Regions from separate parts of the Homo sapiens genome. Here regions 1, 2, 4 and 5 are each linked to region 3. Evidence: fine-mapped expression QTL. A gene starts in region 3. Each other region holds a variant in brackets. All regions are shown on one strand. Distances are between the middles of the regions.

Region 1 (5,000 bases), 200 kb after region 3:
TACCACTCACTTCTCAGCTATCAAATCTGCTCCTTGTGGCCTTTGTTTTATGTTTACCACAGACCTCCTTATTTGAGATCATTACTTCCAAGTTGGAAATTCATTACTTACAAACTTATATAGTAACACCTCTCTACCCTTCGCACATAGTCTGCAATTTTATTCAAACTGAAATTCCTTGTGTCTGCATCAAACTACCCCATTTTTTGAAATTTCTTCATCTATGAGAAAAATTATTCAGCCCTTAATAAAAATTATGATATTTGACCTGAGGTGGGCCCTGAACATGGCACAGACATCCTGTTGCATGCACTTGGTCAAGTGCTTCACATTCACAAGTAGTTCTTACAAATATGCATATATTTCTTCTAAGTCTCCTCCCCATCACCACATCACAATAGATTACCTAGTTTCTGAATTTACAGAAGAAAAAAGTTATCTCACTCCTTCATTTAAAAGCTTGCTTTTATTCATAGTTCAAAGTACTCCATCCATAGTTCAATGGTTCAAAGACTATCCTATTAATATCACCTTTATTTCCTAATACCTATAACTCATCTTGATTAAAAATAACTTCGATCACACACTCCTTTCTCAGGGAGGTTTCTTTACTGCCTTCCACTGGATCATTCCCCTAAGAATATACAAGTACTACAAAACAAAAATAAAATATTCAATAATACTTTATTGTATGCATTGTATACTGTGTTGTATCCTCTTTGGCTATTGCCCTATCACATTTTCTTTTATCATTCCTCAGCTTATCAAAACAGAGCTCAATACATGGTATCTCTCTTTTTCACTTCTTAAATTGCTGAAAATTTGCTGTGTCTCCTTGAAAACGACCTGATGAAGTCATCAATCATTCCTAATCCTTAAATCTAATGGGAAATATTCCATTGTTATTGCCAGGCCTTTGAGCCCAAGCTAAGCCATCATATCCCCTGTGACCTGCACGTACACATCCAGACGGCCGGTTCCTGCCTTAACTGATAACATTCCACCACAAAAGAAGTGAAAATGGCCTGTTCCTGCCTTAACTGATGACATTATCTTGTGAAATTCCTTCTCCTGGCTCATCCTGGCTCAAAAGCTCCCCTACTGAGCACCTTGTGACTCCCACTCCTGCCCACCAGAGAACAACCCCCCTTTGACCGTAATTTTCCTTTACCTACCCAAATCTTATAAAATGGCCCCACCTCTATCTCCCTTCGCTGACTCTCTTTTCGGACTCAGCCTGCCTGCACCCAGGTGAAATAAACAGCCTTGTTGCTCACACAAAGCCTGTTTGGTGGTCTCTTCAAATTGACGCGAGTGAAATTTGGTGCCATGACTCGGATCGGGGGACCTCCCTTGGGAGATCAATCCCCTGTCCTCCTGCTCTTTGTTCCGTGAGAAAGATCCACCTACGACCTCTGGTCCTCAGACCAACCAGCCCAGGGAACATCTCGCCAATTTTAAATCAGGTAAGCGGTCTCTTTTTACTCTCTTCTCCAACCTCTCTCACTATCCCTCAACCTCTTTCTCCTTTCAATCTTGGCGCCACACTTCAATCTCTCCCTTCTCTTAATTTCAGTTCCTTTCCTTTTCTGGCAGAGATGAAGGAGACACGTTTTATCCGTGGACCCAAAACTCCGGCACCGGTCACGGACTTGGGAAAACAGTCTTCCCTTGGTGTTTAATCACACGGGGACACCTGCCTGATTATTCACCCACGTTTCAGAGGTGTCTGACCACGCCGGAACGCCTGCCTTGGTCTTTCACCCTTAGCGGCAAGTACCACTTTTCTGGGGGCAAGAACCCCCCAACCCCTTATCTCCGTGTCTCTACCCCTTCTCCACTTTTCTGGGGGCAAGAACCCCCAACCCCTTCTTCACCCTTAGCGGCAAGTACCCCTTTTCTGGGGGCAAGAACCCCCAACCCCTTATCTCCGTGTCTCTACCCCTTCTCCACTTTTCTGGGAGGCAAGAACCCCCAGCCCTTCTCTCCGTGTCTCTATTGTCTCTTTTCTCTGGGCTTCCCTCCTTCACTACGGGCAAGCTTCCACCCTCCATTCTCCCTCCATTCTCCCTTCTTCTCCCTTAGCCTGTGTTGTTAAAAACCTAAAACCTCTTCAACTCACACCTGACCTAAAACCTAAATGCCTTATTTTCTTCTGCAATGCTGCTTGACCCCAATACAAACTTGACAGTGGTTCCAAATAGCCAGAAAACAGCACTTTCAATTTTTCCATCCTAAAAGATCTAAATAATTCTTGTCATAAAATGGGCAAACGGTCTGAGGTGCCTGATGTCCAGGCATTCTTTTACACATCGGTCCCTCCCTAGTCTCTGTTCCCAATGCCACTCCTCCCAAATCTTTCGTTTTTCCCTCCCGCCTGTCCCCTCAGTCCCAACCCCAAGTGTCGCTGAGTCTTTCTAATCCTTCTTTTCTACAGACCCATCTGACCTCTCCCCTCCTCTCCAGGCTGAGCTAGGTCCCAATGCTTCCTCAGCCTCCGCTCCTCCATCCTATAATCCTTTTATCAACTCCCCTCCTCACACTCGGTCTGGCTTACAGTTTCATTCGTGACTAGCCCTCCCCCACCTGCCCAGCAATTTGCTCTTAAAAAGGTGGCTGGAGCTAAAGGCATAGTCAAGGTTAATGCTCCTTTTTCTTTATCCCAAATCAGATAGCATTTAGGCTCTTTTTCATCAAATATAAAAACTCAGCCCAGTTCATGGCTCGTTTGGCAGCAACCCTGCCATGCTTTACAGCCCTAGACCCTAAAAGGTCAAAAGGCCATCTTATTCTCAATATACATTTTATTACCCAATCCACTCCCGACATTAAATAAAACTCCAATAATTAAATTCCGGGCCTCAAACCCCACAACAGGACTTAATTAACCTTGCCTTCAAGGTGTACAATAGTAGAGTAGAGGCAGCCAAGTAGCAACATATTTCTGAGTTGCAATTCCTTGCCTCCACTGTGAGACAAACCCCAGCCATGTCTCCAGCACACAAGAACTTCCAAACACCTAAACCGCAGTGGCCAGGTGGTCCTCCAGGCCCGCCTCCCCCAGGAGCTTGCTACAAGTGCCAGAAATCTGGCCACCAGGCCAAGGAATGCCTGCAG[A/C]CCAGGATTCCTCCTAAGCCATGTCCCATCTGTGCGGGAGCCCACTGAAAATCGGACTGTTCAACTCACCTGGCAGCCACTCCTGGAGCCCCTGGAACTCTGGCCCAAGGCTCTCTGACTGACTCCTTCCCAGATCTTCTTAGCTTAGCAGCTGAAGACTGACACTGCCTGATTGCTTCGGAAGCCCCCTAGACCATCACAGACGCCGAGCTTCAGGTAACTCTCACAGTGGAAGGTAAGTCCGTCCCCTTCTTAATCAATACGGAGGCTACCCACTCCACATTACCTTCTTTTCAAGGGCCTGTTTCCCTTGCCTCTATAACTGTTGTGGGTATTGATGGCCAGGCTTCTAAACCTCTTGAAACTCCCCAACTCTGGTGCCAACTTAGACAATACTCTTTTAAGCACTCCTTTTAGTTATCCCCACCTGCCCAGTTCCCTTATTAGGCTGAGACCCTTTAACTAAATTATCTGCTTCCCTGACTATTCCTGGGCTACAGCCACACCTCATTGCTGCCTTTTCCCCCAGTTCAAAGCCTCCTTCACATCCTCCCCTGTATCTCCCCACTTTAACCCACAAGTATAAGACACCTCTACTCCCTCCTTAGTGACCGATCATGCACCCCTTACCATCCCATTAAAACCTAATCACTCTTACCCTGCTCAATGCCAATATCCCATCCCACAGCATACTTTAAAAGGATTAAAGCCTGTTATCACTCACCTGTTACAGCATAGCCTTTTAAAGCCTATAAACTCTCCTTACAATTCCCCCATTTTACCTGTCATAAAAAACAGACAAGGCTTACAGGTTAGTTCAGGATCTGCACCTTATCAACCAAATTGTTTTGCCTATCCACCCTGTGGTGCCAAACCCATATACTCTCCTAACCTCAATACCTCCCTCCACAACCCATTATTCTGTTCTAGATCTCAAACATGCTTTCTTTACTATTCCTTTGCACCCTTCATCCCATCCTCTCTTCGCTTTCACTTGGACTGACCCTGACACCCATTAGGTTCAGCAAATCACCTGGGCTGTACTGCCACAAGGCTTCACAGACAGCCCCCATTACTTCAGTCAAGCCCAAATTTCATCCTCATCTGTTACCTATCTCGGCATAATTCTCATAAAAACACACGTGCTCTCCCTGCTGATAGTGTCTGACTAATCTCCCAAACCTCAATCCCTTACAAAACAACAACTTCTTTCCTTCCTAGGCATGGTTAGCGCGGTCAGAATTCTTACACAAGAGCCAGGACCGCACCCTGTAGCCTTTCTGTCCAAACAACTTGACCTTACTGTTTTAGCCTAGCCCTCATATCTGCATGCAGCGGCTGCCACTGCTTTAATACTTTTAGAGGCCCTAAAAATCACAAACTATGCTCAACTCACTCTCTACATTTCTCATAACTTCCAAAATCTATTTTCTTCCTCATACCTGACGCATATACTTTCTGCTCCCCAACTCCTTCAGCTATACTCACTCTTTGTTGAGTCTCCCACAATTACCATCGTTCCTGGCATGGACTTCAATCTGGCCTCCCACATTATTCTGGATACCACACCTGACCCTCATGACTGTATTTCTCTGATCCACCTGACATTCACTCCATTTCCCCATATTTCCTTCTTTCCTGTTCCTCGCCCTTATCACATTTAGATTATTGATGGCAGTTCCGCCAGGCCTAATCGCCACTCAGCAGCAAAGGCAGGCTATGCTACAGTATCTTCCACATCTGTCATTGAGGTAACCGCTCTGCCCCCCTCCACTACCTCTCAGCAAGCCAAACTAGTTGCCTTAACTCAAGCCCTCACTCTTGCAAAAGGACTATGTATCAATATTTATAGTGACTCTAAATATGCCTTTCATATTCTGCAC
Region 2 (5,000 bases), 89 kb before region 3:
TATTTCTAATTCTAAATCCTTGAGGAATCGCCACACTGTCTTCCACAATGGTTGTACCAGTTTACAGTCCCACCAACAGTGTAAAAGTGTTCCTATTTCTCCACATCCTCTCCAGCACCTGTTGTTTCCTGACTTTTTAATGATCGCCATTCTAACTGGTGTGAAATGGCATTGCACTGTGGTTTTGATTTGCATTTCTCTGATGGCCAGTGATGATGAGCATTTTTTCATGTGTCTGTTGGCTGCATAAATGTCTTCTTTTGAGAAGTGTCTGTTCATATCCTTTGCCCACTTGTTGATGGGGTTTTTTTTTCTTGTAAATTTGTTTGAGTTCTTTGTAGATTCTGGATATTAGCCCTTTGTCAGATGGGTAGGTTGCAAAAATTTTCTCCCATTCTGTAAGTTGCCTGTTCGCTCTGATGGTAGTTTCTTTTGCTGTGCAGAAGCTCTTTAGTTTAATTAGATCCCATTTGTCAATTTTGGCTTTTGTTGCTATTGCTTTTGGTGTTTTAGACATGAAGTCCTTGCCCATGCCTATGTCCTGAATGGTATTGCCTAGGTTTTCTTCTAGGATTTTTATGGTTTTAGATCTAACATTTAAGAAGCCAAAAGAACAAAGCTGGAGGCATCATGTTACCTGACTTCAAACTATACTACAATGCTACAGTAACCAAAACAGCATGGTACTGGTACCAAAACAGAGATATAGACCAATGGAACAGAACAGAGCCCTCAGAAATAATACCACACATCTACAACCATCTGATCTTTGACAAACCTGACAAAAAAAGAAATGGGGAAAGGATTCCCTATTGAATAAATGGTGCTGGGAAAACTGGCTAGCCATATTTAGAAAGCTGAAACTGGATCCCTTCCTTACACCTTATATAAAAATTAATTCAAGACCTATCATTGTTTCTAATTTGCTGTTTAGCTCATTTAAATTAAAAATTTTAGTTGTAGCTATCACTTCTAATATTTTAATTACATAATTTTTTAGATTGCAGTACTTTGATAAATCTATTCACATTGTGTTTTATTTTCTTGAACATTTTCCTCATAGTTATTTTAAAGTTAATAAGTGACAAAGTTAAATGACTGATAATAATCTATATACTTCTGTTGTCTGTATTTTGGCATACTTTTAATCTTTTGAACCTCTCGGTAGGCATGCTGTAATTTTTTTTGTAAATTCTGGGCTGAGTGTATGAAACATTGTAGAGGCTGTAGATATTATGTATTTTTCTCCCTCAAGAGAAAAAAATACATAATGTTCTTTTAGAAGAGCACCTTGACTAAGTCTGTAATTGAAATAATTCATGCCTGAGTGAGGTCTGGCCTAGTCTTGTTCGCATTTATTCTGAGAAGTAACTTTTCAGGAAACTAAACTGAAACCCAGAGATATTTGCCAGGGTCCCTGCTCCTTGGTAGGCCCTACATTTCTAATGCTTCTTTTCCTGAGACCATCAGAAATTTTTCATTAGATTTTTAACCCATTATCTGCTATTCCCTTGGTTTTAAGAAGAAAAGCATTAGGGAACATCAGGCTCATTTCAATGAATTTATCTAATCTATGGTATCTTGTTCTCTCAAGTCATGGCTCCTTGGACATGCTCTGATGCCTTCAAGGAGCTATATTTAAACACATCGTATCCTGAATTCTAAATTTTTTGTGTGAGATTGCAGGTTTAATAAAATCATACAGCATGGTCAGATGCAAAAGTCTCAAAGTTGTTGCTAATTGTGCAGTTCATGTTAGCAGCTTTTAATACTTTTACTTTTTTAACATCACTGCGCTAAACTTACATGGGAAAAAGAAAATAAGAAAAAAAACAGACAAGAGATCTAATACTTGAAAAATACTTAGTATATAGCAAATATTTCAAACACACCAAAGCACTTTGTATTAGTTCTTTTTCATGCTGCTAATAAAGACATACTGGAGAATGGGTGATTCATAAATGATAGAGTTTTAACTGACTCACAGTTCTACATGGCTGACGAGGCCTCACAATCATGATGGAAGGCAAAGGAGAAGCAAAGGCACTTCTTACATGGTGGCAGGCAAGAGAGCTTGTGCCCGGGAACTCCCATGTATAAAACCATCAGATCTCATGAGACTTATTCACTACTACAAGAACAGTATGAGGGAAGCCACCTGCATGATTCAGTTATCTCCACCTGGCCCTGTCCTTGGCACATAGAGATTATTATAATT[C/G]AAGGTGAGGATTGGGTGAAGACACAGCCAAACCACGTCATACTTAAACCCCAGAACTCCACGTAGCATGAGAAAAGGTGGGAGGTATGGATTCTAGGAATTATAGATTTCTCTTCTGTAGGGCTACTATGTTGAGCATAATGAGTGATTCTTTCAGAAAAAAATAAAAGATAATAGTCAAACAAAAAAATTATTGAATCATAGAGGATAAAACAGACCACTAGAGACCATTTATCTCTCATGTTGCAGAAGTTACCTTACACACAAGGCAGAGTGCCTAGCTACTTCATGGAAGAGCTATAGATAGAAGCCATGCTTACAGAATTTTTCTTTAACTCTCTTTTAATGGTTCAAACTGTCCTTCTTGATAGTCATAAACTGAGTGAGGGATGAAGATACCTGCACATTGAAATAAACATTTTTTTTTCCATTTCAATGATAAATTTTAAAAGAAAAAAAAAGGCAGGGGAGAAAAAAATGTTGGCATTAGGGTCCTGACAATTTTCAATTTTTACCTGGCAATGAGGTTGATTTAACCTTCTGCGTGTGGTGCACAGGTTTGCTACGCCCATCCTACGTCTTAGTGCTCCAAGTGAAGCCTTCCATTACACACTAAAAAAATTGATGAGTGTGAAATAAATGGACCCAAACTGTGACTGCATACCGGTGTTACAAAGGAAGCAAGCCTGTCTGAGCAACAAAACCAGAAATTGGCCCAGGGCAGAAAGCAGGGAAGAGCACCCAGTCAAGTGCTAATCAGGTCACCTTCCCTGGCAGGCTCCCACAGATCATCTGTTATAGGCTACTGTCACATGCAAACACGTGTTTATCTGATCACTGAGACAGTGCTGAGGTTTGGCTTACTGCCTCTTGCAGATCTCAGAAGAGTTAGCCTCACTGAAATCTCTGGGTGAGTTTTCAATTGCACATTTTATGTTCTTTGCTAGTTCTGACGTTTCCAAATATTTCTCACCAACTTGTGGCTGAATGCAGGCCATCATGACATGCCCCAGAGGTGCCTAGCTAAGGCATGAATCACATAATGTCTATATTCACATTCTACGAAGTCCTCAGGGGTTGATGTAGTTGTGCATGTGAATTAATGTCCTTATAAAACCTAGCTCAGTATATTATTATTCAAACTTGATATCCAGTCTGTTAATGATTATTGGTCTGCAAGGCAATAAAGAATGTGCTGTTTTATAGATGGAGGCCTTAACACTGCAATGGTGTGTCTTAAATTGTTACCTTTTAACTTAGGATCAAGTTCTTATGGAAATTGAGGGAGCTCTATTGTGTTTTAATCATTAATTGAGCAAACAAATATTTATTGACTACATACAATATGATGGTCACTACACCAAGTTCTGGGATATGACTTTCAATGAGCTCTATTGTGTTTCAATCATTAATTCAGAAAATATTTATTGGCTACAGACAATATGAGTGTCACTATACCAAGTTCTGGGATATGACTTTCAACAAGGCAGATGTGTTGTCATCTACAAGTAGGTCAGAGTTTAATGAAGTAGTGGAAATATCACTAGATTGGCTGTCATAAGACTCGGATTGTACTTTTAAGTACTTCACAAACAGCATGGCACAGATCACTGCTTCTCCATTCATTAAGAGGAAGTAACTACCTGAAGATAAAGAGATGAGCCTCATTTCTCCCAAGAAAAACAAATAAGAATTGGGCCTTTGTATAAATTTCCATTTTTCTTTTTACTACCTGCATAACCTTGAACATATTACCTCACCCTAATTTTTTTAATCAGGAAAATGTGAATGATGATAATAGTCCTTATTTGGTTGGATTATTGAGGATATTAGATGCTCTAGATATATCACCTAGACTATTGTGCTTGGCATACAGTGTTCGGTAAGTGTTTGCTTTTATTATTCTGAAACTAAAGTAGTTGTTACATCTCTAGCAATTTAATTCAACACACATTAATTGAAGCCCCACAATGCTTGTGGCATGTATGAAATAAGACTCACTTCCTTTTCTCATTAGGATATTCACTATCTGGGGTGAAGGGCAGTACTTCCAGCCAAATAATTAAATCAGCATTATATTGTGCTTTCAGAAACAGAGTTATATGCAAAGTTATGTTTGTGCAAAGATGTGTAAAAAATCAAGTCTACCTAGATAAGCAATTATACAAACATTATGAAAGATGCAATCACTAAAACTCTAACAGATGAATAATTCATCAGAGAAGAATCTAAGATACATTCCAAGCCATCTCCATTACACTTTCTCTCTCACACTCTCCCACACATACAAACATGTGCACACACATAAAGTAACACTATAAACATTAGATAACATTCAGAATTTATGTCTTAACTCTACCCTCTTTCCATTAATTTCTCCTTGCCAGGGAATATAGATTACAGGGAAACACATGGTTATAATCAGACTTAGGTTTGATTTCTGGATCCTTTTATGTAAGTCTACTATCCCCCAATCCTAATTAATCTAGAGAATCTGTGTGCCCTCTTGCTCAGTAGGTATAAGTAATCATGCAACATACTTCTACAAATTTCTGTGCATTGAGCAGTCTAGATGAAATGAAAGTAATTTTCCAAGATCGTCTTTCAGGAGATCCAGATTTCATGCTTATCTGATTTCTTACCTATATATGTTTGGAAAGATACATAACTCATCTGCAAGCTGGAAAATGAGAGAAGCCAGTAGCGTGGCACAACCTATCAGTCTTCAAGCAGTAGGATAGAATATTGAATAATATCTTCATTGCTGCATTGTTTGTAGAAT
Region 3 (5,000 bases):
AATAAAATACAACTCAATTAAAAAGTAAGCAAAAGTTCTAAACAGATACCACCATATATATGGCAAATAAGTACATGTAAAGATGCTCAACATTGGTTGTCATTAGGTATATAAAAATTAAAATAATAATGAGATAACATTGTACATGTATTAAGAGGGCTAAAAACCAAAATATGCTAATACTAAATACTGGTTAGGATGAGGAGCAACAAGAACTCTCATTCATCACCGGAGAAAATGCAGAATGGTACAACCACTCTGATGGATAACTTAGCAGTTTCTAACAAAGCTAAACATATTTTTACCTTGTAATCCAGCAGCTGGGTTCTTAGATATTTACCTAGATGATTTGAGAAATTTTAACTACAGAAAACTTTCACATGAATGTTTATAGAATTTTATAAAATTATCACCAAAAACTGAAAGCTATCAAGATGTTCTTCAACACAGAAATGAATAAACTCTGGTATATCCATACAATGAAATACTATTCAGAGATAGGAAAGAATGAGCTATCAAGCTGTACAAGGACATAGATGATTCTTAAATGTGTATTGCTAAATGAAAGAAGCCAGCATGAAAGGACTGCTGCATACTGCATGATTATATTACATTCTGGAAAAAGCAAACTTATAGAGAGGGTAAAGATATCATTTGAAAGCAGCCTGGGCAAGATGGCAAGACCCTGGCTCTACAAAAAAAATTAAAAATTAGCTGGGCATGGTGGTGCACACCTGTAGTCCCAGCTACTTGGGAGGCTGAGGCAGGAGGATCCTTTGAGCCCAGGAAGTAAAGGTGGCAGTGAGCCATATATATGGTGCCACTGCACTCCAGACTGGGAAACGAAGCAAGACCCTGTCTCTAAAAATGAAAAAATAAAGAAAATAAAGATATCAGTGGTTTCTAGAGGTTCACAGACACAGATTTGAGTAGGTGAAGCACAAGAGATTGCCTAGAGTGGTGAAACTATTCTGTATGATACTGCAATGGTGGATAGATGATATTATGCATTTATCAAAACCCATAAAAGTCTAGAGCACAAAAACTTAACCGTAATGTATGAAAATTTTTAAAAAATTATTTAGGAGGTTAGGAGATCCCAGATACAAGGTAAACTGTGACTATACAACCATCCAATCTTCAACAAGGCCAACAAAAACAAGCAACAAGGAAAGGACACTCTATTCAATAAATGGTGCTGGGATAACTGGTTAGTATGCAGAAGATTGAAACTGGATCCCTACCTTTCACCAGATACAAAAATTAACTGAGGATGAATTAAAGACTCAAATGTACGCTCTCAAACTATAAAAATCCTAGGAAATATCCTTCTCAACACTGGCCTTGGCAAAGAAAATTTGGCTAAGTCCCCAAAAACAATTGCAGCAAAAACAAAAATTGACAAGTGGGACCTAATTAAAGAGCTGCTGCACAGCAAAAGAAACTACCAATAGAGTAAACAGAAAACCTACAGAATGTGAGAAAATATTTGCAAACTATGCATCCAACAAATGCCTAATATCCAGAATCTGTAAGGAACTTACAACAAGCAAAAAACAGAATACATTAAAAAATGGGCAAAGGACATGTACAGACACTTCTTAAAAGAAGACATACAAGCGGCCAACGAACATGAAAGAATGCTTGTCATCACTAATCATCAGGGAAATGCAAATCAAAACCACAATGCTATATCATCTTAAACCAGTTACAATGGCTATTACTCTACAGTCAAAAAACAACATATGCTGGCGAGTCTAGAGAAAAAGGAACATTTATACACTGTTGGTGAGAATGAAAATTAGTTCAGCCACTATAAAAAGCAGTTTGGAGACTTTTCAGAGAACTTAAAACAGAGGTACCATTCAACTCAGCAGTCCCACTGAGACGAGAAGTCTTCTTCTGATGGAAGGTTTTTCTCAATGGAAGCGTTCGTGTCTCACGGGCTTCAAGGAATGAAGCTGTGGACCACAGCAGCGAGTGTTACAACTTGATTAGAGAAACGGGCGGACCCAAAGAGTGTGCGGCTGCAAGATTTGTTAAAGTGAAAGCAAAAGTAAAGTGAAAGCGAAAGTAAAGCTTCTGCGTGGTGGAAGGGGACCCAGAAGGGTTGCTGTTTCTGGCTTGGGTGTCTTATGCTTATATCGCCTTATGACCCCTCCCCTTTTCCTTTTTCTGTCCTATACAATTAGCTTATTTTCAACCCACTTGTGGGTTGATGGGCCTGATTGGTTAAAAACATCAGGCTGTAGCTAGACCTTAAACTCCCTATATGATTGGTTGAAGTTTCAATCCCTTAGCTTGCAGCTGTGACTCATTTTGGCTTAGGGGAAAGTCCCCTTTGATTGGTTGAAGTTTAAATCCCTTAGCTTGCAGCTGTGACTTATTTGGGTTTAGGGGATAGTCCCCTTAGGGAAGTCCCTATTGACCCAGGAAGTCCAGCCAACTTAGCCACTTAGTCCCTCACCATTACTGGGTATATAACGAAAGGAATTTAGGTCATCATACTGGAAAAAACACATGCTATTGTATGTACATTGCCACACTACTCACAATAGCAAAGACATATGTGATGGTTAATACTGAGTGTCAATTTGACTGGATTGAAGGATACAAAGTATTGATCCTGGGTGTGTCTGTGAGGGTGTTCCCAAAGGAGATTAACATTTGAGTTAGTGGGCTGGGAAAGGCAGACCCACCCTTAATCTGGGTGGCACAATCTAATCAGCTGCCAGGTGGCTAGAATATAAGCAGGCAGAAAAATGGAAAAGAGAGACTGGCCTAGTCTCCCAGCCTACATCTTTCTCTTGTGCTGGATGCTTCCTGCCCTGGAACATCCGACTCCAAGTTCTTCAGTTTTGGAACTCAGACTGGCTCTTCTTACTCTTCAGCCTGCAGACAGCCTATTGTGGAACCTTGTGATTGTGTGAGTTAATACTTAATAAACTCCCCTTTATGTATATATGTGTGTTCCATTAGTTCTTTCCCTCTAGAGAACCCTGATACAGATGTTGGTACCAGAAGTGGTCTTCTAGAGGAACAGAATATTAAGGATGTAGTTCTTTCATTGGTTTTGGAATTTCTGGTGTTGGCTGCTTAATATTAGACGCCAAAAATGCTAAGAACTCTACTTCTAATAGCATGGAGAACACTGATAATCCTTGGCATGAACTGTTCGAGAAATATGCAAAATAAATGCATTTGACACTCCTGATTCATCGCTCCTGAGAGGCAAGGATTTTAGTGACTCTACATGTAATACCTTTGACCATATGTGGAGAACCAAGGAACATAATGAAGCTGGTTGGTTGCTCCTAAGTTCAGTGGAAAAAGTGATGAAAGAAAATAATGAACTCAGGGATTCTATCTCCCGGCCTCAGAAGCAGATACTGAGCCTCAAATCTGCTAAGACTGCCCTGAGTGAGAGTCTTATCTTCCTGTAGAGAAAGAGCTGAAATTGTGGAAAAACAGACACAAACCCTTATCATGTAGGCTGACCTGTAATGAAAGATGCATGCACAGCCTCACCAGGTGTCCACTGTTAAAGTGAGCGCTTTGATTAGAAAAGAATGGGGCCCTGCAACTTGGAATGGGGACGTGTGGGAGGACCCTAATGAAGCTGGGGACACTGAGTTTGTAAACTCTGATGAAACTTTTCGGCCAGAGGAAACAGCTTCCCCATCCCCAGTAGAGACAATATCCCCTCCCTGACCCACACTGCCATCAGCCTTTCCACCTTTGTCTGAGGAGATAAACCCTGTGCTGCCTGAGGCAACAGTGATGGCCTCCCTTGAGGCAGTTTCCAGGCAAGGTAAAGTTGATTATCTTCAGGAGCCACCTCCAACACCCCTGTTTCCTTCTAGACCTATAACTAGACTAAAGTCCAGGCGAGCCTCTAGAGGTGAGGTTGAGAGTGTGACCCATGAGATGTTCTACACCCAAAAAGAATTGCTTGAGTTTAAACAGAAATCTGGAGAACAGGCATGGGAATGGATATTAAGGGTGTGGGATAATGGTTGAAGGAACATAGAGTTGGATCAGGCTGAATTTATTGATTTGGGCCCACTAAGTAGGGATTGTTCATTTAATGTTTCAGCTGGGGGAGTTAAAAAAGGTTCTAATAGTTTATTTGCTTGTTTAGCTAAAATATAGATTAAAAGATGGCCTACTACGAGTGAGCTAGAAATGCCTGATCTCCTTTGGTTTAATGTAGAGGAAGGGATCCAAAGGCTTAGGAAGATTGGGATGGTACAGTGGATTATTCACTTTAGACCTACTCATCCCAGCTGGCAGGGTCCAGAAGATATACCCTTGATCAATGCCTTGGGAAATAGATTTGTGAGGGCAGCACCTACATCTTTGAAGAGACCTGTAATTGCCCTTCTCTGTATGTCAGATCTAACAGTGGGAACCGTAGTCACTCAATACAAAATTTAAATACAATGGGAATAATTGGATCCCGAGGTGGCAGGGACCAAGTGGTGGCACTCAACCATCAAAGGCAAGGTGGGCATAGCTACTGTAATGGACAGCAGAGGCAAAGTGACGATCAGAACAGTCTGATTTGTGTAGAGCTCTGGCATTGGCTAATTAATAATGGTGTTCCTAGAAGTGAAATTAATAGGAAGCCTACTGCATTTTTGCTTAATTTATACAAGCAGAAAACTTCTAGGTCGAATGGACAAAAGACTAATTTGAATTATAAAAACAGAGAATCATGGCCCCTCAATCAATTTCCAGTCTTGAGCCAGTTTACAGACCCAGAACCCCTTAAATGAAGATGAGGCCAGGTCCCCTTGAGAAAGAACCCCACTACATTACTTACAATTTATGCTGTGAATCTTTCTCCCATCCTTCCCCAAAGAGACATCTGGCCTTTTACCAGGGTAATTGTGCATTGGGGAAAGGGAAATGATCAGACATTTTGGGGACTACTGTACACTGGCCTGAGCTGACGTTGATTCCAGGGAACCCAAAACGTCATTGTGGTCCTCCAGTTA
Region 4 (5,000 bases), 8.8 kb before region 3:
AGTTGCAGACATAAAACTGAAGAGACGGGCTGAGGCCAAATTGTTAGGGGTTCAAATGCCCAACAAGGAAGCTGGAGTTGTCTCAAGTCATAGAAAATTATAAAAGCTCAGATAGAGAAATTGCATGGATGGATTTGCATATTTGATGTGTGTTCCATCAGACCAAGTGGGAGGACATCTCACTGAGCCATTCTCAGGATATCTAATAGAGAAAATGGAGCAAATCTATGAGAAAAGAAGGACTTCACATCAAAATAAAATAAAATAAAATGGAAGAGTTACCAATGTGTTCACACATGAGCTCTGAAGATGGGTAAGGATTAAAAGTGGAATTTTGAAAATCCTCCGTGTAGGAGGCCACAGTTGTACCTGGCTTAGGTCTCAGCAGTGGCTCCCTTGTGTGGTGCAGGACTGTGATTTGGCCTCTGGTCTGCCTGAGGTTGTCTCACTGTTTCAGACAATGAGGCAGAGCCTGGGCATGCTGGGCCTGCCTCACTCTTGGGCATCTGTACTTGGTTCCATTTGACATGTTCAGTCTATACACAGCTTAACAAAGTACTTGTTCTAAGTCAAAATGACTCCTACTTCAGGACTTGGAATCTTCGTTTTCCTTCCAATATGGTTTGGCTGTGTCCCCGCCCAAATCTCATCTTGAATTGTAACTCCCACGTGTCATGAGTGGAACCCAGTAGGAGGTGATTGAATTATGGTGGCAGGTCTTTCCTGTGCTGTTCTCATGATAGTGAATGAATCTCACGAGACCTGATGGTTTAAAAACAGGAGTTTCCCTGCACAAGCTCTCTTTTTGCCTCCTGCCATCCATGTAAGACACGACTTGTTCCTTCTTGCCTTCCACCATGACTGTGAGTCCTCCCCAGCCATGTGGAACTGTAAGTCCATTAAACCTCTTTTTCTTTGCAGTTTCAGGTACGTCTTTATAAGCACCATGAAAGCAGACTAATGAGCCTTCCTACTCCCTACTATAGTTAATGCCTTTTCAAACTGCATATATTAGCTCCAGCACATATATTCAAGGATGGCATTCTTCCCCACTTCCCCAATCAGATGACAGACCCCACACCTACCCTCATAGTCCCACAGTTCCCTATACTGTTCTTCCAAAGTACTAATCACAAGTTCTAATGGTATTTGTAAGAGATTATTTGATGAATGCCTACCTCTTCCACTATACTGCAGCTCTCTGAAGGAAGGGCAATATATGTAGTGTTATTAAATGTGCCTCACAAACCTAGTACATTTCCTGGAACCCAGTATGGACTTAATATATATTCATTAAATGACAGAATGATTTTCCCATTGGTGCCATCTCATTTGACACCATAAAATGAGAATTATACCTTACAAGCTGTGACTTCATTGGTATCTCCCTCATGGTTATATTTTTTTAAAAAAAATCAACTTGAGGATTTAATTTAAACATTGCAGCAAACATCCTTTTGGGGATTTTCATAGTTTGGTCATTCATTCACTCATTCATTCCACAAACAATAATTGAGCACAATGGCTTCCTCTCCAGGGCTCTGTTAGTTCTGTCCACTCTCCAATCTCAGCATTCTACATTTTTTTTCAACAAACTAATCCTACCAGCTGAAAATAAGATGCCAGTATGCCAGTCCCTTGTGGTTTTTACTAAAAATTGCCTGCAAAATGAGACACAGTCCTTTCATGATTTTCATTAGAGAGCAAATTGCTTGTGATACCTTTGGCAGAAATTAAATGGATGTATAGAGGCAGTGCCATCTTATTACGCAGTTGAATTTTTGAGAAAAGAATGGGGTTTGTCAGACCCAAAGTTTCGCTGTTGCTTTAAAAAAATGGCATCAATGATCTCTCAAGTTACTGCATGAGGACACCTAGTCTGAGTGTCTAGTGACAGTTTTTACAAAGAATTTTACCCTGTAATGGTTACACCTGCCTTATTATTGTTTCAAGTGGTTGCAAGGAAGTGTTTTCTTCCTCTTATTTCAAAGGAAACAAAAATATTTTAGAGGTTTGGTATTTGGACATTTCTTTTTTCTTCAGTTCAAAATCCTAGCAAAGAGCGATA[A/G]TTTGTGGTGTGTTGAAATGAAATGCTGCAATTGAAAGTTGCTTTTGCAGTTTCCCCAATGTGTCATGCTGATGCTAACCTTTTCATAAGGCAATGCTTTGAGGAACTTTGATTGTTAAACAGTGCACTCTGAGCTGAAAGGAGAATTTTGGAGGAATGATGGGCAAAACTGTTTACATATATTTATCTAGAGCATTTGGTGAGTATAATGAATCATATTGAAGTACAGCACTTGTTTAAAATGTTACATACTGTAACATGGGATATTAGTATTTAGAATTGCTCACATGGTTTATGTATCTATATTGTTTTTATGATTGGCACTCTTCAAGAAAGGCTTGAAGTAGGCTTTGCCTATTCTTTACCAATCACCAGATACTATTGTTTACAATGTACTTTAGTCTACACAAAAATGGACTTTACACTATACTTTAATCTGTAGAAAGATGATCCATCAAGGCAGGAGTTCTTAGCTTTAACAGCAGAATAACAGCAATGTCGGCCCATAAGAATGTCTTTAGCTCACATTTTGCCACACTTTTATTTCATCACCTGATATTCATGTTAGATCCAGTTGACTTGGTCTTGAGAATGAATCAAAGATACGGGTGCTCTGATTTCCTACACTTCAATGTGAGTAATTCTCATTATATGCTTGATCCTGATACAAATGGCCACTCCTGACTATAAAATTTAGGCTTTAGCATATGTTGTCGTTCTACACGTGTCTTAGCACTAAATATGCAATCAAAATTAAATTCTACTTTCTACTAAGTCAGGTATGAGAACATATTTAGACGGACCAAATAATAGATTCAGAAAAATAATTTAACTGGTTGAATGTCAAATGTCATAATTTCAAAAATCTAGAAATTTGAAATTATCTACTTGTTGACTTAATGGGACTCTCATTCAAGTTTCTGCTCCCATAGAAAGACAATTGATGTTTCTGTGAGCCAAAGCTGAGACTATCAAAATTGCATATAATCAAAAGGAAATACTAGAAATAGGAAAATACTTAACAGGAAAAAGAAGAGGTGCCTTTTATTGCTCATTAGTAGACTCCAAATAACTCAGAAAAGAATCAGCGAGGTTAAAAATAGGCTGTTAGAGAGAATTCTCAAAATATATGCGAAGGGAAAAGTAGTACAAAAAAAGACAGAACATTCAAAAATTGTAATAAAAGAAAAACCAAAAACAAGCTAAAAATAAATTGCAGTATAATTTTAAAAGGCATCATATGCATATTATTTGAAGGAAAAGAAAGAGAATGAAGGAATAAGATTTGAAGTAATAATGACCAAGAAATCTAAAACATTAACGGCAAACACTAAGCCACAAATCAAGGACATTCAAAAAACAAAAAGCAGGAAAAATAAATAAATAAATGCACACACACACACACACACACACACACACACACACACACATACACACTCCTCCAAAGCATATAAAATTCAAACTGCAGAAAACTAAAGATAGGAAGAACAACTTGAAAGTAGCCAGATCTAAAACAAAAACAAAAAACTTACCTATAGAGGAACAATTTTAAGGATAAAAGCAGGCTTATCGAAAATCACACAAGCAAGAAGAGGGTAAAGTGAAATACTTAAAATATTTAAAGAAACTACCAAACTAAAATTCTATAATCAGCAAAATTATCCTTGAAGAGTGAAGAAGAAATAAAGAATTTTATTGGCAGCAGAACTTCCTGCATGAAATGTTAAAAGATGTTCTTCAAACAGAAGGAAATGCTATGTCAGAAATGTGTATCTAGAAAAGATAGGAATAAATAAATAAAGATAAAATAAAATATTTTGTTTTACTTTTTCTTAAATGACCAAAAAAGTAACTATTTGTTTAAAGTAATAATAACAATTTATTTGGTGATTCAAGCATATGAATAAAAGAAATGAATGCTAGCAACATCATAAGGAATGGAAAGAAGAATCAAAAATACTTATTAAAAAATAAGAATAATATGAAGTTTAATCTTAGATAACAGGTGCAGTCAAAACTACAAGTCAATAACAGAAATTTAGCTGAGAAATTTCCAAGTATCTGAAAATTATATAATATACTTCTAAATACCATATGGGTCAAATAAAAAGTCTCAAGAGAACATTTACATAGTTTAAAATAAAGGAAAATTAAAATGCAATTATTAAACTTGAGAATGCAGTGAAAATAGTGCTTCAAAATTCATAGAATTAAATGCATATCTTGGAATAGAGGAAATATCTACAATCAATAACCTTTCTACTATAAGAAACCATAGAAATAAGGGCAACTTAACCTAAAACAAGCAGAATAAAAGAATTAATAAAGATTAGAGCAGAAGTAACAGAAATCAAAAGGAGAGAAATAATAGATAAAAATCAAACAAACCAAAATATTTTTCTTTGCAAAGTTCAGTAAAGTTGACAAAATTATAGCCAGGCTAACCAAGATAAAAAAGAGAAGACAGAAATTATCAATATCAGAAATAAAAGAGTCATTACTACTGAACCCATGGACATGAAAAGAATAAAAAAAAGATTATAATGAACAATGTTATGCTAACATATTTGATAACAAAGCTTAAATAGCTAAACCTCCTGAAAGACAAACTATCAAAATTTATACAAAGGAAAATGAGAATTGTCCTGTATTTATTAAATAAATTCAATCAATATTTCATAACTTTAAAAAAAGAAAGCCTGAGAAACAGATGGTTTCAGTTAATGAATTCTACCAAACACTTAGGAAACAAATAATGCCGTTTCTCCACAACAGAAACAGAAGGGCCACTTCCTAACTTATTACATAATATCAGCATTTCCCTCCTACCAAAAGCAGATAAAGACATTAAGAGAAAAGAAAACTACTGACCAATATCCTTTAAGAACAGAAGCAAAATTTCTCAACTAAATAATAACAAATTGAAGAGAAT
Region 5 (5,000 bases), 27 kb before region 3:
CCTAGCACCTTAGTACTCAAATATGCTTCAATTTTCAAAGGTATTTGATCAAACCTGAACAAATGGAGCCCTCAGTCATTTCCCAGTTTCCATCCTTCATTCCATTCATTCTTTCACCCATTATCTATTACATTCTGACTTGGGCTGGAGTCTGGGCTGAGCACTGGGAGAGAGAAATGAAGATGACAAAATCCTTCTCTCCAACAACTTCCATTCTAGGAAGATGGCTTCGTACTCTAGTATTTGCATCACAGCATGTCTGCTATGGCAAGCATGCATACGTGCTGATAGGCAGAGAGGTGGGCTCTTAAGGGCGAGGTACCCTTCCCAAAGAAGAGAATCTTGATTGTAAATGTAAAGGATGCATAAGAAGCATGAAAGTGAAAAGCTCTTGGTCCATTTAGCCATTTTCCTCAAAAAGCTCCATATGGATGTTTATCATACTGATTCATTCATTCATTCATTTACCCAACAAATCCAAACCTTCCTTCAATCATAGAGATGCTTCTGTATGCTAGTCACCATGTTAGGCCTTGTATTAGTTTTCAATTTTTGCTGTAACAAATTGCCATAAACTCAATGTCTTAAAACAACACAACTTTACTTTTTTATGGTTTTGTAGGTTAAAAGCATGACCTGGCTTCACTGGACTAAAATTAAGATGTCAGCTGTGCTGTATTCCTTTTTGTAGGTTACAGGGGAGACCTATTTCCTTGCATTTTCAAGTTCTAGAGGCCACTGACATTCCTTAGCTCAAGATCTCCTTTTTCCGTCTATAATCAAGCTAGCCATGGCAGATTGATTTCTTTTCATTTTGCATCACTCTGATTTCTTCTGGCTCCCTCTTCCACTTTTAAGGACCCAAGTGATGACATTGAGCTCACTTGGATAATTCAAGATAATCTCCCCATCTCAGAACCCTAATGTGATTACCTCAACAAAGCCCAAAGTAAGGTAGCATATTGACAGATTCTGGGGATTAGGAATTGGGCATTTGCAGTGGGTTCATTATTCTACAAACAACTATACTGTCCACGTTTACTCTTGAGATCAACAATTGTACCCGACTGTGACTGTCTCCCCAAATTTCAATTAGCTGTTTCACCATCAAGATAGCAAATAATCTAAATATTACACTGTGCTTCATCTACTCTCTGAGCAAGAAGCTGTTTTGAGAAGTTAATCTCTTTTGTAATTCACATTTTAGATGAGGCAGATGATATTCTGGAAGTTTAATTAACATGCCCAAGGTCACAAGTGATAGGAGCAGAATATTGTTAAAATTCAAAGCTTCTGACTGCAAGTCCATTCATTTCCCAGAGAAAGACAGTTGATCTCATATACTGTATAAATTGAGTTCATTTCAGGTTTAAAAAAAACAAAAAAAAAAGTCTGTTATTTAAAATCAGACTAATTTAAGGAAACACATATAAATCCTAATCACTTTTTTCTTATTTCACTAATAGAGCACCTTCAGACATTCAATGCAAAGACATTGAACAAGAAACCCCGGGATTCAACTCCATGACAGCTAACTCACTTTCAAATGACTGATACTTGGTGATGCACCTGTTCACTTCCACCCTGGGGGAACTCTCCCATGCATGTCTCTATTCTAAATAAATTGCCTTAAGATGGATTTGTTGTAATTTTGCTACATTTCTTCAGCAATCTTCAACAGCTAAGTGGAAGGAGTTATTTTTGCCATTGTTCAAGTTTTGTTTTACCCCACTATTAATAATTTGTATATTTGTAGAGCATCTATACAGAACTCAATTTCTTTAAACATATTACTTATGGTAACAAACAACCAACCAAATAAGAGTGATCTCTTGAGTCTCATTCCAGGGTGACAAAGCTTATAGAGCACCTTCCAAATAGAACACAATCCATATAAGCCCAGCTAGATTGACAGATAATGTCCCTAAGGAGATGGCATGGTGTGATTCAATGAACAAGGAGACAGATTCAGTCACACAGCTAATAAGTAGCAGAGCTCAGGATTCAACCAAAACTCATGTTCTTTCAATTGTACCATGCTTTCTGCTAACACATCACAAACTTTGTCAAATATTAGGAATAAAACTTGCTGATGTTTTAAGCCACCTCAAAATAGATCTAAACCCTACTGGTTCTATTTTACAGTAAAAAAGGATGAAAAAAA[C/A]CAAAAACAAACAAATAGTTCAGCCCCCTATCACAAAGTTAATGTTGTGATCTATGGGGTAAATATTTCTTAAAGATTCAGACACTTTCATCTCCATTAGAGAAATGCTGAAAAAGACATATGCTGAGAATCTCCTGGTCATAAGTGCTTAATGCTAAAGGCAGTCAAGCAATACAGAAGCAAGAAGCCTTAAAAGCTTTTGGAGTCTAAGGTTGTAACCTTTGGGTAAAATGGCGAGGCTGTCAGTCCACTGAAACCCAGCACTTCCCCTCAAGTATCTGTCTTGCCCTTCCTTCCACACTAAGTGCCTACTCGGAGTTCCTCTGGCCATTATATAAAGCTTTTCAGGAAACCTCACTCCAGACAGATGTTTAACCCCAGGCTCTAGGGGGACTATGCTGCCAGTTGCTGGGTCTGTTGATTAATTTTACATGTACACACATGCTAATGTAGCCTGACATTGAGGGGCTCACAGTCAGCCAGCCATGTTAAATAAATAAAGTAGTACAGGCAAATCTGCACTGAAAGTTGTCTGCACACAGATGCATTTCACCCCAAATCTCAAAGGAGAGCTGGTTCTTCTTTTTTATGCAGCCAGCATCAGAGAGGCAACCTGGTCAATATTATCACAAATCGTCCTTGATTCACTTGTATGTAATATACTACCCCATTTTTTAAATAGGCTTGGGTGAAATATGGGATATTTAAATGCAGATGTAAATTGAAGTTCAATGATAGTAAGACAATAGAAGGGCTTCAAACACATTGATTACAATGAGTGACCAACATTACTTAGAAATTCAGCTGCATAATCTGTGGTCTCAGAGCATATTTTGTGAAATTTACCAAATTACAAACGTTAAAGGTGATATGGAATTATTGCTTCAAAATAGTGATGATTTTGAGAAAAACACTTGTGAATAATAATATATCACTTCTAAATATTAATATTACAGATTTTTCTTATGGTATTGGCAGATACACTATTACAGACCAACTCTCACAATGAGAAAAACAAGAAGAGTTAGGGAAAATATTTTTTACAAAATTTGACTGAAGGCATTGCAGAAAAATCAAGACAGCCTGAACTTAAGAGATATAAGTTCTGAAGAAAAGGAAAGCTCAAGTGTTTGCTCAACAACCAGTGTAGCTTTTCCCTTTGGGGCATTTGCTAACCCACAAGTGTGGGGTCTCAATACTGAGAAGCAAAGAAAGCAGTTCTCAAAATTGTTAAGGGTTCAAGGGGACAAAACCTGGAAATCAGGGCTCAACATGGAGGAGGAATCCTGGTAAACACTATCAGTTTCCGTGGAGACCCTGAAGTATTATATCCAAAGAAGAGAGGGAAACCAGCGCCCCCACAAATCAAACTGGATTATGATGATTTGCCTCTACCCTAGCATCTTTCAAGAGGAAAAAGTAAACATCACTATGACAGAGCCTAAAAAAAACACCTTCAAATAAGTAGGTAATTAATAAAAATCAGTTAAATCTTGTTCTTATTAAGAACATTAAAATACTTTCCAGTAATAATAAAAGGAATAGCAATAACTACCTTTCCCTTTTGAGCCTCTCACAGATGCCTAGGTTTTGCGATCTTGGCTATCTCTAAATCTTATACCATATCTGCAAGTCAATCATATTTATGACTGATTACAAAACTGAGGTTCAGGTTCATAGATGTTATGTGACTTATGGATCCACATAGCTAAGTAGACAACTGAGTTAAGATTTAAACTCTGGACTGTTTGACTTCAACAGACACTTTCAGCGGGTGAGGTGGGTGTATATTTTCATGAAATATGTGAAGAGGGGCTTACTTTAGAACAGAAAAGAGAGGAATCTGTAAGGAACTGTGGGATGATTTTTGATGAAAATGATCTCTTGGTGAAAGGCAGTCTTCTTAGAGGTTTTTCCGTCTCTTTTCAATTCACATAATATTTACTGAATGCTTACTATTTGCCAGGCGCTATTCTATATTTGATGACTATAGCAATAAGCAAAATAGACAAAAATCCCTGGCCTGATGCAGATGAGATCCTACTGAAGTGGACAGTTAGCAAGTAAATAAAGATCGAATTTAGGGAACTAGTATTTATAGCCAAGCTGATGTGATAGGGAGAAAAAAAAAAAAAGACAGGAAAGCTATTAGTGACACTGTGTACAGGGCAGGAAAAGTATGGAATTCAGACAATGCCCGTGGGGTTGTGTTTGAAAAAGTAGTGCTGCACACCATTCTTCCACCTGAGCCCTTCCCCATTTGGAAATGAAATATCGGGGGGCAGAGGATCCTTGGTCATACATTTCTCTAAAGATCTGTGATTCTAGGTTGGGCATGGTGGCTCATGCCTGTAATCCCAGCACTTTGGGAGGCCGAGGCGGGCAGATCACCTGAGGTCAGGAGTTCGAGACCAGCCTTGCCAACATGGTGAAACCTCGTCACTACTAAAAATACAAAAATTAGCTGGGCTTAGTGGCAGGCGGCTGTAATCCTAGCTACTCTGGAGGCTGAAGCAGGAGAATCGCTTGAACCTGGAAGGTGGAGTTTGCAGTGAGCTGAGATCGCGCCATTGCACTCCAGCTTGGGCGACAAGAGCGAGACTCCATCTCAAAAACAAAACAAAAAAAGATCTATGATTCTAGATGGTGAATTGAATGTGGACAAAACCATGAGAACTGTGGCATCATATGTTACCTTCTCAACCTGTAAAATTATAAGCTATTTGAAAGTTAATGTGATACAATTAAACTCTATATTAGAATGATGGGGGAGAGAAAAGATAAAAGTATACATGAAAAAAACTTGTCCAAATAATAAAAAGACACCAGTAGCAAC

Direction of the effects. Positions count from the first base shown, and alleles are read on the strand shown. Sizes are in standard deviations (SD) of each study's normalised expression. Not every link is listed here.
With allele C in place of A in region 1, the expression in subcutaneous fat of the gene that starts at base 2,046 in region 3 is higher (moderate effect, 0.43 SD a copy in GTEx).

What was found.
Region 1: its variant is fine-mapped to the expression of LINC02328 in subcutaneous fat (GTEx, PIP above 0.99).
Region 2: its variant is fine-mapped to the expression of LINC02328 in whole blood (TOPMed, PIP above 0.99). The same link has a PIP of 0.9 or more in blood mononuclear cells.
Region 4: its variant is fine-mapped to the expression of LINC02328 in whole blood (INTERVAL, PIP 0.98).
Region 5: its variant is fine-mapped to the expression of LINC02328 in T cells (TOPMed, PIP 0.93).

Annotation. Positions count from the first base shown.
Region 1 is chr14:85,734,508-85,739,507 of GRCh38, reverse strand. No RefSeq gene overlaps it. Among named protein-coding and RNA genes, the nearest start is that of LINC02328, 200 kb to the left of the region's middle. The variant A/C (reference allele first, on the strand shown) is at 3,118.
Region 2 is chr14:86,020,533-86,025,532 of GRCh38, reverse strand. The region is part of intron 1 of LINC02328 (long intergenic non-protein coding RNA 2328); the gene reads right to left. The region is part of intron 4 of LINC02316 (long intergenic non-protein coding RNA 2316); the gene reads left to right. Among named protein-coding and RNA genes, the nearest start is that of LINC02316, 40 kb to the left of the region's middle. The variant C/G (reference allele first, on the strand shown) is at 2,219.
Region 3 is chr14:85,931,724-85,936,723 of GRCh38, reverse strand. LINC02328 (long intergenic non-protein coding RNA 2328) reads right to left here and starts at 2,046. Exons shown (of 4, transcript NR_110155.1): 1 at 1,863-2,046. RefSeq lists enhancers at 1,932-2,141, 2,512-2,561.
Region 4 is chr14:85,940,525-85,945,524 of GRCh38, reverse strand. The region is part of intron 1 of LINC02328 (long intergenic non-protein coding RNA 2328); the gene reads right to left. Among named protein-coding and RNA genes, the nearest start is that of LINC02328, 8.3 kb to the right of the region's middle. The variant A/G (reference allele first, on the strand shown) is at 2,069.
Region 5 is chr14:85,958,411-85,963,410 of GRCh38, reverse strand. The region is part of intron 1 of LINC02328 (long intergenic non-protein coding RNA 2328); the gene reads right to left. Among named protein-coding and RNA genes, the nearest start is that of LINC02328, 26 kb to the right of the region's middle. The variant C/A (reference allele first, on the strand shown) is at 2,165.